Linked DNA regions of Homo sapiens. The protein of the gene in region 4 purifies or fractionates together with the protein of the main gene of each other region. This does not show direct contact. Each region holds a gene or a part of one and is shown on either strand. Other genes may lie near its edges.

Region 1 (2,539 bases), on a different chromosome or scaffold from region 4:
CAGCTCACTGCAACCTCCGCCTCCAAGGCTCAAGTGATTCTCTTGTCTCAGCCTCCCGAGTAACTGGGATTACAGGCGCGCACCACCATACCAGGCCAATTTTTTTGTATTTTTAGTAGAAACAGGGTTTCACCATGTTAGCCAGGCTGGTCTCAAACTCCTGACCTCAAGGTGATCTGCCCACCTCGGCCTCCCAAAGTGCTGGGATTACAGGTGTGAGCCACTGCGCTTGGCTGTAACTGGGTAATTTATTCATCTATTCATTAGCAAATCTCTCCTGTGTTTAGCACTAAGAACACAAAGATAGATTTTGCAGTATGGTTTCTGCCCCCAAGGAAATCAAAGGGGTAGATAATATGTAAGCTAATACAAGGTCAGAAATGTAATGTGAGGCATCTATAAGTACTATGGTTGTGAAGGAAGGAGTAATGAATGTGTTCAGTCAAGGAAAACATTAGTAAAGAAGCTATATATATATAACAAAAACAAGCAATATATGAGCAATATTTTGAGAAATGAGTCAAAGTTATTTGGTGGAAAGATATTTTCGGTCGCCACAGGTACAGATAAAAACTGGAAAAAGGATGATGAGTTCGGGGAACTATAGCTTAATTGTCCAAAGTATGGTGTGTGTGTGTGTGTGTGTGTGTGTGTGTGTGTATTGGTGATGAGGCTGTCAGGAGTTTATACAACTTTTTGCAACAATGTCACTATTGGGCACTCAAAATGTGGCTGGTGACACTAAGCAACCATATTTTAAATTTTCCCTTTTTTTTTTTTTTTTTTAGAGACAGGGTTTCACTCTGTCACCCAGGCTAGAGTGCAGTGGCATAATCATGGCTCACCACAGCCTCATACTCCTGGGCTCAAGTGGTCCTCCTGCCTTAACCTCTCGAGGAGCTGGGATTACAGGTGCATGCCACCATACCTGGCTAACTTGAGCAAATTTTCTTTTTTTTTTTTTTTTTTTTTTGAGATGGAGTCTCTGTTGCCCAGGCTGGAGTGCAGTAGCGCAGTAGCGCGATCTTGGCTCACTGCAACCTCTGCCGCTCTGGTTCAAGTGATTCTCCTGCCTCAGCCTTCTGAGTGGCTGGGATTACAGGCACCCATCACCACGCCTGGCTAATTTTTGTATTTTTAGTAGAGATGGGGTTTCACCATCTTGGCCAGGCTGGTCTTGAACTCCTGACCTTGTGATCCATCTGCCTTGGCCTCCCAAAGTGCTGGGATTATAGGCGTGAGCCACCACACCTGGCCACTGAGCAAATTTTAATTGTCACTAATATATTTAAACTTAGCCACATGTGGGCTAATGGCTACCAAATTGGACAGTGTAGTCTAGAGAAAAAAATAGCTGTGTGGCTATTCTAGGATCAGTCTATATAGAGCAATTTTGCTTTATAGCCAGAATTCTCAAAGAGAATGAGGTGAGGGAAAGCTAGCTCAAGATATTGTATAACAGTTCTGTACAACAAAGGCTTTCTTAACAGAGCTATGGGACCATCCCAGTGTATACTAACCATAACCATGCAATCAAGGCATGTTGCCTTACCTGGAGTAACGTATGACCTGCATGCTTCTGATACAGAGCGTCTGCCCTGTCCAAGGAGGTGATATGCACAGGGAGGATGTTGGAAGCCACGACTGTAAACCAAGCTGACTGATTTCCCTTAAGAAAGGAAGAAGTTATCTGACCTGGTGAAAAACTTGGAAAACCTGCATATTCAAGGTACAATCAACTAAAAAAAAAACAAACCAAAAAACAAAAACCCAATCAGACTCCCTTTATAAGTACTGGTATGGCAGTAGCTGTAAATCAAATTATTACTAAGAACAGGGGCACAATACTGAAGCAGTGCATTTCAGCAATTCATGTGAAACTATGACTTCTTTGACAGACCCAATACTATTTTTGAAAAAAGTCTATTATTAAAAATTAAAAGGAAATACTATCTGCTTTAATTGTCTCTGTGTAAAGTTAGGTTTAAAATATTAACATTTTATGTGTTCTGATGAAATATATAAGGGTGCAAGCCTGGTGTGGTGGCTCATGCCTATAATCCCAGCATTTTGGAAGGCCGAGGTGGGTGAATCCCTTGAGCTCAAGTTTGAGACCAGCCTGGGAAACATGGCAAAACCCTGTCTCTATAAAAAATACAAAAATTAGCTGGGTGTGGTGATGTGTGCCTGTAGTCCCGACTACTTGCGGGGCTGGGGTGGGATGATCATTGGAGCCCAGGAGGTTGAGGCCACAGTGAGCCGTGACTGTACCACTGCACTCCAGTCTGGGCAACAGAGAGAGATGCTGTTTCAAAAAAAAAAAACAAAAAAACAAAAAAACAAAAAACCAACCCCAAAAGCAAAAAACCAACAACCTCCCAAAACGAAATATATAAGGGTTCTAAGTGTGTAAGGCAAAATTTCTAACAAAGTATGAGCAAACACAAAACCCAAGAAATGTGCTATAGTAATGGCACACAGTTGTATTGTGTTGTTGGACATATCCATATCCATGTTTCATTTTCCTTTTTCTCTTCAC
Region 2 (3,173 bases), on a different chromosome or scaffold from region 4:
CTTACCGGGGCCACCGAGCCAACCGGCTGCTGTACAGATGTAAAAGGGACCTCGTGGACGCCCGGGCCGGCGGGACTGGACAGCAGCCCTGGGCCCAGGTTGTCCGGGGCTGTGGCCGGCCGGGAGAGTCCAGTGGAAGGTGCTGTCTCTTCTTTTTATAAAGGGGGTTGGGGTGTGGGCTAGGGTGGGGGTTGGGTTAGGGGAGACCCTGCAGTTGGGGGGCAGGACACAAGGGCGGACTCATCCCCAGCGGTGCTGGGGGGCAGGGAGGGTCCTGGGGGGCAGGGAGGGTCCTGGGGGGCAGGTGGGGGCAGGGGCGGCGAGGCGCGCGGCCCGGGCCAGCATCTGTTTGAAGGCGCTGTTTCCCGTGCGCTGCGTCCACCGTCTGTCTGGCCCCAGCCAGCTTGGGCGGAGGGGAGGGGGGCGAGGGGAGCACCCGCGTGTGCACAGCCACAGGGTGGGGTGCAGGTGGCTGGGCCCAGGCAGCATTCAGGCCCCTGGCCCCGCAGTGGCGGGCACTCATGTGAAGCCCACCCCTCTGTGGTCAGTAAATTCTCCAGAAAGCGCCAGCCTCCGCCTCTTCTGTCACCTTTGACCCCAGGGGGACGCTAGGAGGCCCCCAAAACCCCACCCCGTGCCAGCCAAGAGACAGACAGGGCAATGAGGCACCTGTGGGACTTTATTAGGTAAACAGACCCCAGCTCCAGCCACAGGCTTGGACCGGCCAGCTGACAGTGCGGCCTCAGACACCCCCGCCAGGTTCCCTCCTCCCTCCTCTCTCAGGGTCACCAGTGTGTGAAAGATCGGGGCATGCCGGCCACAGGGGGAAGCAGGGTTCAGGCTGCCCCACCTGGGTCTGGCCCTGGCAGGCGCCCCCTCACCTGGCTCTGCTGTGGGAGCCGAGAACAAAGACATCACCTGCCTGGCTCCTGCTGCCCCGGGGGCTCAGCCAGCACCCACCCTCACAGTGGCCTGGGCAGGGGCTGGGGTGCAAAGCCTCACCCTCCCCCTGTGAGCCAGACGGAAAATGCATCTCCCAAGAGTGTCTCGAGGGGCAGGAAGGAGGCCTGCCCCTCCCTAGCCAGTGCCTACAACAGGGGGTGCCCTGGGGGGCAGAACGGCCGACCCGCACCACAAGACATCCTGGGGGACAGAGGCCCTGGGCACAGCCCAGTCCCCACCCAGGAGCATATCCTAAATGTGCAGGGGCCGGCAAGGCAGGGGTGGGAGGGGTCCGCGGCCAGGCTCCGTGAGCTGTGGATCTCCCTGTGGACTCAGGATGGGGAGGGCTCGTCCCCACGCCCAGGCCCTTCCGCCTTCAGCCAGCACATCTTCTGCTGGTGCTGCTGGACAGCATCTTGCACGCGGGTGTCCATCATGGCCTCGGTCAGGACCCCGTCCTCGGAGGCATACGCCGTGGCCTAGTGGGGAGAGAGGCAGCTGAGGGAGGCCGCCATGGGAACCCCCCACCCCAAATGCACGCCAGGGCCCCGAGGTGGGGAGGGACCAAACCAGGGGCTCCAGGATGGCCTGAGCGTGAAACACAGGCTTCCCGCACCTCGGCAGAGCCCAGCACGTGTGTGGACACCGGGAGCAGCCCCTGCAGTGCCCACAGCCCTGCCTGCGTCCTCAGCACTGCTGTTGCTCAATGACTTTCTAATAATAGAAAGCCCAAGGCGGAGCCTCACTGACCGCCGACCCAGGGCAGCTTCCGAGAGGCAGGTGGGAACTGCAGACCCTCTGCGAGTCTCAGCCGTGGCCAGGCAGTGCCCCCGGGTCATAGTGCACCTCAGACCCTCAGACCCTGACCCTCACAGGCCTCCAGGGCAGAGGCAGCCACTGCCCACCTTGAGGCACATGAGTGGTGGCACCAAGGCCACCTCTGCCCCCACCTCCCTGTCCTCCTGAGCACAGGGCTTGGCATCTGGCACGTGAAGGCTGGAGCTGCTGGGGCTGTGGCCCTTGGTGTGGCTTCAGGCAGCCTCAGGTCCAGCCCTTCTGCAATGAACGGGTCACTCTCCATCCCAATGCCAGCGAAGGGCGTGGAGTCCCCAAGGGGAGGCACCCGTGGGTCAGGGTCAGGGTCAGGGTGTGGGGACCCCCACTGGGCACCGTGCTCAGGAGCGCACCAGGACACCTGGAGGAAGCACAGGGCAGGGGACCCTTCCTGGACAGCTGAGTGGGTCCCTCGCCCCGTCCCAGCTGTACCTCCCAGAGGCAGGATTCATCTCACGGGGTGCAGGGGCAGCAGCACACCATCCTCCCACAACACCGTCGCCACGACGGAACCTGCCATGGGGATGACCACGTGGTGCCCGTCCCCTCTGCAAGCGCCCACCCCTCACCAAGAGCCACTGTGTGGGGAGACACTGACCGGAGCCGGACCACCACTGTGGGTCGGGGGCCCGGGAGCGCAGGAGACACTGACCGGAGCCGCACCGCCACTGTGGGTCAGGGGCCCCGGAGTGCAGGAGACACTGACCAGAGCCGCACCGCCACTGTGGGTCAGGGGCCTGGGAGCGCAGGAGACACTGACCAGAGCCGCACCACCACTGTGGGTCCGGGGCCCAGGACTGCTCAACATCATTTTTGGTCTTGAGCGCACCCAAGAGAGGGCAAACAGGTGCAGGGACCCTCAGGGTCCACCCGAGTGGCTGCACCCCACCCAGGGCCCAGCAGAGGAAAGGGGCTATGCAGATGCTCACGGGGCCACCCCTCCAGGAAGCACGGGACCTGGCAGGAGCCCACCAGAAGTGACAGCTAAATGTCACGTGGCGTCCTGGGTGGGATTCTGGGGCAAAACCCAGTCACAGGTGGGTCCAACAGTGACACATGATGTTCACCACGTGGCAAGGTCCCAGGCCCAGGAAGTCTCTGTGCTACTCTTGCAACTTTTCTGGGAACCTAAAATCTTCAAACTATAAAAGTTGAAAGACAAGACCTGGACCTGATGTCTTCACATGTGAATTCACAAAACATTAAGAAGAATCAGTATCACTCCTCAAACTCTTGGACAAATTGAAGAACATTTCCTCACTCATCCTAAGAGGCCAGCATTACCCTCATATCAAAGCCAGACAAAGACACCACAAGAAAAATGACATGCCAATATCCCTGATAAGCATCGTTGGAAAAGTCCTCAACAAAATGCCAGCAAAACCAATTCAGGAGTA
Region 3 (3,661 bases), on a different chromosome or scaffold from region 4:
TTACTTTCTTTATATCCTGCTAGTGAAAGTTCTGTCACTACAAATGCAGGGAACCAGAGACAAGCATGAGAAGAGAAAAATCTGCGTTTCTTACGATGAGTGGCTGTGTGAAAGGTTTCTGCTGGGTTTGGCTAAGGCATCTAAAACTCCGTGTCTGCTCCCAATTAGTCTACCTAGAACTTACAGTTCAGTTTTCTGGGGGGATAGGAAGAGGGGATTACATTTAGCTACCTCTTCCTTCTTGGAATAGTTAAAAATACGTTCTCATATATAAAGCAGATCGAATCAGTAACTGTCTAAATGACAACACAAATTCGGTGTTAGCTATGACTAACATCTGACTGACTCCATCTCAGCAAAAAATAAAGGACAACAAAATCTCAGTTGTTACCCAACTAAGTGTTTAAAGTATACTAAGAAGTTAGTGCTCGTTGATAGGATTACCAAGCAAATGAATTTAAGGCATAACTGGAGTAACAGCAAATGAAGTATATACTTTTTCCCTCTGGTGCAATAAGGCCTCTGCCAAGAGAGATTACTTTAAGAGTTTTCCTGCCCCAAATTAACCAAAGGTCCCGTGTATTGAAGGAGGAATAAGCTAAAGGCTGAGGCTTTTAAACAGGTAACGACTGACTTTGAAACACTCAAGACTTTAGAGTTTGAGTCAAAATCATCATATATACTTATTAGATGCTGGAATCAATGAGGCCAAATTTGCCAGGGCTGCAACATGGATAAAATGTCAAGTACAGATGAAACATTATTTTGTTTATACATGTCTAAATTTTAACAGAACCCTTTAAAAATCAGGAACAAAATGCTATGTTCACACAAAAATCCTTGTGCTTAATTTGCAGGAAGATATCAGAACAGTTGAAAACAAATTGTTTCAGTCTTTAACTTCACTTGATGAAGCTGCTCAGCAACTGTGCTGTTAGTGGTGAAAACTGCAGAAACACAATTCCCTTCTTGGATTTCAGGGAAAAGCCATTCACTTGTCAGTCTCTGCAGAGACAGGGAGAGAATTCTCTGCCCCCAACTCCTCTGACAGTTCCCTTCCACTTAATGGGGTCACTGCCCAAGTGAACTCTCAGGAGGGGACATTTCCATATAAGGCCATTTAAGTGTAAATTGACACAGCAATCTATGTCAAACAAGCCACTGAGTTTCTTTTGGGTGGTGGGATAGGGAAAAGGGCTTTTGTGTCAATTAATTAAAACTTACAGAACAGTCAAAAAAATTGATTTCTCAAAGTTCAATTAAAAAAAAAAACTAGCTCATCTCTTATTTTCAAGGAGATGAATTATGGAAAATTCCTTCAAATTTATGCCACAGGCCTAGTTTTGGACCTTAGGAAGGAATCTCCTCCCATTTTCTCTTCACATTTTAGTTTCTTCAAGTTGCTATTATAAATTGTTTGAATAGCAAAATCAGCCATGACCCGAATCATGGAGATATGTGGATTTCCTTGCATTGAAATACATCTATACAATTGAAAGTTATGCATACAGCACAAAACTATAAACAAAAAGGTGAAGCAAACTTTCTTTATTTTCAGGTAAAAACATTAACCTGATGGATTATTGCAGATTTGAGAAATCAGCACATAAAATGACTGGACAGCATTGCTTACAGGTGCTTTTATCTGCGTCGAGACAAAGGCTGAACTGTTTTGTCCCAAGTCAGCACTGGGAGAAGGGGAAGAGGAGCGTGGAATAAAGAAGACTATGAACAAAAACGTAAAACAACAAAGGGAAAAAAATTTTTTTACTCCAACAGGGAAGGAAAACTGCTTATTTTGTTTAAAAAATTTACATTAATTTAAAATCCTCTGGCCACAGAATAATAAATACCGGCCAGCCCAAGCTGTAGACTTCTTAACCTTCATAAAAGAAACAAATGAGCTTTCCTTGTCTCATTCCAGAGGCTGTTGCTGCTGGAATTGCCATGTAAACAGTCCTTAGTGTGTCACCTGGGAAAAAGCCAGTAATACCCTAAACTATATTAAAACTAAACTATAAGAAAAGTCTACCTAGTTACAAAAGCTGAATTATATTCAATAAATTTCAATCCAATGAATTTTAAATTAGATCTTAACTGGAGAGAACATGGGACAACAGAAGCCCATGGGTAACGAAAATTTGAGAACTGTGAGTTGTATACAAAAAAAAAACTGTGAGCTGCACAGATAATAATGAATCAGGGAGAGAAAATCAGAGGAAAGTGAAAAGCACATAGAGCTAGTCTACTAAACTATATTTGTCAAATACATGTGAGCTTAAATTTCTGTACTTATGTACAAGAGTTGTCTTTGGAGGAAAGAAAACTGCAGACTTAGCTAGATGGATACACACAGCCCAGAATTAAACTGCACAGCCACATTTATTGTTCCAGCCTGGAAAAACATCCCTTTTTTAAATTTCACACAGCAAAGCATGTTAAAAACTTCACTCATCAAATAAATGATAATTTAAACAAGAACTTGCTAAAGAAACCTCATCACAACAACGTTTTAGGGCCTGATCACTTTAAGTCCATGGGGCCATTAATGAATATCAACCAAATGTCTCTTTATAATCTGCAAGCCGTTTTTCCTACAACAAGAAGGCGTAACATGTTTCCTTGACTCAGGTGATAACATTAGAAAAGAAATCATGATTTGTTTCTTTTGCTGTAACAGGCAGACACTGCATTTCTTGCTATGATCAGGAAAGATGGAACGACTGCTGCCCTTCTCTTGCTGCTATCAACAGTTTTTCACGCATTATCTCAATGCTTGAATAGTCCGGCAACTTAAGATAGTTCACACAAGTCATTACAGAGGGCAAGAAGTCATCTGGGTTTTCTGTTGATTCAAACGTCTTTCGGACAATTGTCAAAGGTGGATTCAAACTCCGGAATCCTGATTAAGAGAAAAAGAAAGACAAGGAACTTAAGTTTTTAAAAAACATCAGCTATCAGAAAACATTCCACTGCTTTGCCGTACAATATTACACACAAGATATTCTTTCTTGCTTGGCAATTGCACATTCAATATACATTAAGTGCAAGGAACCTGCTTTAATTTATCATTTAAAAACTCGCTGTATAACATGGAGGCAACAGTTCTTTATGTCTTCTGATTTTTAAAATGGAATACCCACAGTGGTTCACGCCCGTAATCCCAGCACTCTGGGAGGCCGAGGTGAGCCAGTCGCTTGAGAGTTTCAGACCAGCCTGGGAAACATGGAGAAACCCTATCTCTACAAAAATACAAAAATTAGCCAGACATGGTGCTGTGTTGTGCCTGTAGTCCCAGCTACACAGGAGGCTGAAGCAGGAGGATCTCGCCTGAGCCCAGGAGGCAGAGGTTGCAGTGAGCCAAGATCACGCCACTGCACTTCAGCCTGGGTGACAAGAGTGAGATCCTGTCTCAAAAAACAAAACAAAAACAACAGAATACCAATTTAACTTACATTAGGATTCAATCTGAAAAACCAGATTTTAGAATCCATTCTCATCTAAGTCAACTAAGAGTTTAGAATGTACAAATGGCCTGGAATTTTATCTAACCAGCATTACATGTGCATTAGTAATCCTACTTCAATATGTTTAAGACAATCCCCATGGATTTCCCTGCTAGTGGTCTCAATGTACTATAATGATACTGGAATAACTAAGA
Region 4 (4,295 bases):
TTGTTTGACTTCAGTATGTCAAGGTCAAACTGTAGACTACTGGAATGGCCACATTCATCTCACTTTAATTTCAAAACACCCAGAAGTATAAAACGAAAGGTGGAAGGAGGAGCAAAAATAACGCCCCATAGACCTTACCTCACCATAAAGCAGGGTTGGCAAACCAGGGCTCTTGGGCCAAATCTGGCTTGCTACCTGTATTTGCAAATAAAGTTGAACTGGAACACAGCCAACTCACACATCTGCATAGTGTCTATGGCTACTTCTGTGCTAAAGGTAGATCTGTAATTACAAGAGACCACATGGCCCCAGAGCCTAAACTATTTACTATCTGGCCAACCCCTGGTTCTATATTGTGATGGGCTGAGGGAAGCTGGCAGGTCCTTAATCCATGTACCCTAAAATGCACCACAAATAAAACCATGAGCCTGGGCCACTGACTGACGTATAGAGGGTGTATTCCTCACTGGATGTGTCATCAGGTAGACACATCGGGTACCATCTAACGAATACCATCAGTTGAGCTGTTCAACTCACTGCAGGGCTCAGAACTGATTCCACTAATCCACTATTCCATCTGCCAAGCTCCTAATAATGTCTTTATCAACCCAGGTTGCCAACTTCAATGTTCCTCATTTGGTGAAACCTATAGATCTATTAAAATAAAATTCTTACGCTTAGAGGGGAAAAAGTTCTGCTCAATCCAGCACAATGTTCAACTTACAAAAGCATATAGTTTACAGGAAACAAATGATCTTGCTGCCATAATTCTCATTTATAAAGTCTCTGAACCACTCAATTCCAACTATTCTAAGAGAAGTTGTGCAGGCTTCTGAGAGGCTTCTCTCACCCCATCTGAAAGCAACTCCTTCAACTCTTTCCTTCTACCTACCAAATGCATCAATGAAACACACTTTGGCAAGGCACAGACTGAGGGCTGAAAACATTCATTTGAAAAAAAAATACAGAAAGAAAGGAATGAATGAATGGGAATGGAAACTAGAAAAACTAGGACTATGATTCTAGTCCTAGCTCATTCACTAATGAGTTATACAAACCTGAATATGTTATTAAAATTTATCAATTTTAAACTTGTACCTCAGTTTCCTCATCTGCTAAATTAGTAGTTCTCGATTTTCCTGTTGCTACAAGCTTCACATGAATAAACAACATTCATACTGCAATTCTCAACATCTGCTGGAGGCACAACAAAGTTTGATGAAAGTCTTTTTATGCCCCCCAATTCTGATATCTTCATCACCAAAATGCACCTCCATCCCCCAGTTCTCCTGATGTCATTCTTTTTTTACTTCTAACAGCACTACAGCAATCTAAAAATATTCTTTCACTAACCAGAATGTAAGCTACAGAGGAGCAAGGACCTTTGTCTATCTTGTACATGACTGTATTCCCAACGTCTAAAATGGGCCACACTCATCGAACAGGTGCTAGAAATAGCTGTGCTAATTGTACCTCCTTTAAGAGGGTCTCTTGCTTACTTACTCCTATCTTTCCTCAAGGAACTCTAAGTTTCCTTCTATCTCTAACATAACTTGAAGCCACTTTTCATATACAACAAAGCTCACTATCAAGGTGGTAACTGTAACACTGAGGCAAAATTACAATACTAATGTTTTCCCATTTACTTCACGCAGTACCAAAATGCTGTTCACACCAATACTGTATTTCAAAAATACCTACAATTCATCTAGAAGTGAAATTAATTAAATATTTTATACATTTCAAATATCAAATTCCAATACACATATAAATATAAATGTTAAAATTACATTATAATTATTTGCTGATTAGGTAAGATAAAGTACTATCCAAAAATTTAACGAAATAGTATAATACTTATAAAAAAGGTAATTAATCCTAGAAGAAATTAAAGCTAATTTTTTATATTAATTACCAAAACTAATGTTTAGCCTACAAAAGACTTAGGGAAAACCCAAGAGCTAACTTCAAATATTTGCAGGGCTATTATGCAAAAGGTAGATTTGTTTTATTTTGATTGGATTCCAAGAGTGGACTAGAATCAAAGGGTAAAAATTAGAGAAATCAAGCTGTATTTTGTAAACAAGAACATATTTCCAAAAATATACAGCTGTATGAAAATGCAGTGGGCTGCCTTGTGAAGTAGTGACCTTCCCATCACTTGAAGTACATAAATAGATACAGGATGGCTGTTGGATTAATATCTGCATGGGTGGGAGGTTGAACTCAACAACTTCTTAAAGCCCCTACCAAGACTAAATACTACTCTGGTACCACTCATCATTCTGAAGGACATTCTGCAGTGAAGCCAGTTTTGAAAACTGCAACTGCATAGCAATGAAGAATACACGTACTGCTAGGAAAAGTTAATGCTGCTGACTAGATTCATGCTAACGTACCAGCTGTTCTACTCACTACTGTTTTCACAATGATCTTCTAAAAGGGTCCCCCGTAAAGCCCAAGAGTCCTCAAACCATATTTTGAAAACCACAGTTCTAGAGATGCTAATGGGAAAAGTTGCTGTAGTAAAAGATGAGAGCAAAAAGGTGGGAAGAATGAAAGGAAGAAAGGAATCTCTCCTTGTCCCCCAAATAAAATCCCCACTCAGGAAGGTTACTGAAGCTAAGAATTCATGGAAGTATCATAACCACCACCACTAGTCAATGACCAACGTTTAACCTAATTAAACATATTTTCATCCCAGAAGAGAAACTTGTCAACAAAATTATCTTAGAAATTAGACTCTATGGGAAAGACAGTTTTAAGCCAGTGGCCTCCAATATACCCAGCTAGCACTACCACACCCTAGTTCCCCAGAAAATAAAGCACACATAGAATCCACAACATTCAACAGCATGCAGCATCTACCTACACCCTGCCCGCCTCACGTTACAAAGAGTTATACAACACTCAAGAGCAGGCAGGACTCAGGGAAGGTAGAGCCAAGACACAGAACTGTCAAAACCTGTGAAAATGTACATGTAAAAGTCTTTCCCATTCTTTGCTGAATCTTAATTCCAAATCTTACTTCCTTTAAAAAATTTCCTTGCAATTTAAATTTTCAAATAGAAAGGCTGTCCCTGTGAATTCTGCATTGACATTCTCACAGCAATCTGAAAATCTGTGAGCCCTAACTTTTCAACAGTCAAATGGGTGTCATGGAAAGTGGCTGAAGTTCTAGCAGACCTTGGGAGAACCATCTACATAAAAATATGTGAAGTGCCAGCCTTGCCTAATGACATAAGCAAAGCCCAACTATGAAATTGATTCCACAGGAACTGTTTGATCAAATATTCTTCATTGTAGAGAACCTCTTTTGCCCAACAATTTATTGAATCAGGAGTTTCAGTCCTCTAGGTAATTAAGGAATAAAAATTATCGAACACAGAAACTACTTTTTAAATTAGAATAAAATTCAATAAGGACAAGTCTAGAACACTAAGAAACATAAAGATGCCTAAGTACATGTTCAAATGTGATTACTTACCTCTACAGGCCTGAACCTGAAGTTATAACTTGAAGTGACTAGAAAAGTAACCTTTATAGGCTTTGTAAAGGTCAAAGATAGAAAACACTTATTAAAATTTAAATGCTGTACTCCTTTGCTTATGAATCATATTATATAGGCCATTTTTAAGAAACATGGAGTAGGCTGGGCACAGTGGTTCTTTCCTGTAATCCCAGCACTTTGGGATGCCAAGGCGGGCAGATCACTTGAGGCCAGGAGTTTGAGACCAGCCTGGCCAACATGGCGAAACCCCATCTCTACTGAAAATATAAAAATTAGCCAGGCGTGGTGGTGTATGCCTGTAGTCCCAACTACTCGGGTGGCTGAGGCTCAAAAATTACTTGAGCCAGAAGGAGGTTGTAGTGAGCTGAGACTCTGTCTCAAAAAAAAAAAAAAAAAGAAAGAAAGAAAGAAATGTGGAGTAACTAATGAATAAAGACTTAACAGGCTTTAAAACAGTAGGTAAATGGGAGGGGAAAGAAGAGACAGGAACCAAAATACAGTGACCCTGGAGCAATACAGGTTGAAACTGTGTAGGTCCACTTACAAGCGAATTTTATTCAATAAATATATTGGAAAAATTTTTGAAGAGTCACAACATTTTGGAAAAAAAAACTTGCTTTTTCTCTAGCTTACTTTATTGTAATACAGTATATAATACACATAACATACAAAATAACATTGGTAAGGCTTCCAGGTCAACAGTAGGCTATTGGTAAAGTTTCTGGGGAGTCCAAAGTTTACACACAGATTTTCAATTATGCATACCCCTACACTGTTCAAGGGT

The links. The genes of interacting proteins can lie anywhere in the genome.
Region 1: the proteins of MRPS6 (region 4) and NOA1 purify together in Homo sapiens (co-immunoprecipitation; 2 studies listed by BioGRID and IntAct, with this or other methods). This does not show direct contact.
Region 2: the proteins of MRPS6 (region 4) and ATAD3A purify together in Homo sapiens (tandem affinity purification; one large-scale study listed by IntAct). This does not show direct contact.
Region 3: the proteins of MRPS6 (region 4) and TRIP12 purify together in Homo sapiens (affinity purification with mass spectrometry; one large-scale study listed by BioGRID and IntAct). This does not show direct contact.

The regions. Positions count from the first base shown.
Region 1 is NC_000004.12:56,965,068-56,967,606, forward strand, and holds part of NOA1 (nitric oxide-associated protein 1), read right to left. Parts: intron 1,670-2,539; coding exon 1,553-1,669; intron 1-1,552. UniProt on the Homo sapiens protein: Involved in regulation of mitochondrial protein translation and respiration. Plays a role in mitochondria-mediated cell death. May act as a scaffolding protein or stabilizer of respiratory chain supercomplexes. Binds GTP.
Region 2 is NC_000001.11:1,532,174-1,535,346, reverse strand, and holds the end of ATAD3A (ATPase family AAA domain-containing protein 3A), read right to left. Parts: intron 1,422-3,173; coding exon 1,275-1,421; 3' UTR 662-1,274; downstream 1-661. UniProt on the Homo sapiens protein: Essential for mitochondrial network organization, mitochondrial metabolism and cell growth at organism and cellular level. May play an important role in mitochondrial protein synthesis. May also participate in mitochondrial DNA replication.
Region 3 is NC_000002.12:229,764,849-229,768,509, forward strand, and holds part of TRIP12 (E3 ubiquitin-protein ligase TRIP12), read right to left. Parts: intron 2,903-3,661; coding exon 2,706-2,902; 3' UTR 1-2,705. UniProt on the Homo sapiens protein: E3 ubiquitin-protein ligase involved in ubiquitin fusion degradation (UFD) pathway and regulation of DNA repair.
Region 4 is NC_000021.9:34,118,170-34,122,464, reverse strand, and holds part of MRPS6 (small ribosomal subunit protein bS6m), read right to left. Parts: intron 1-4,295.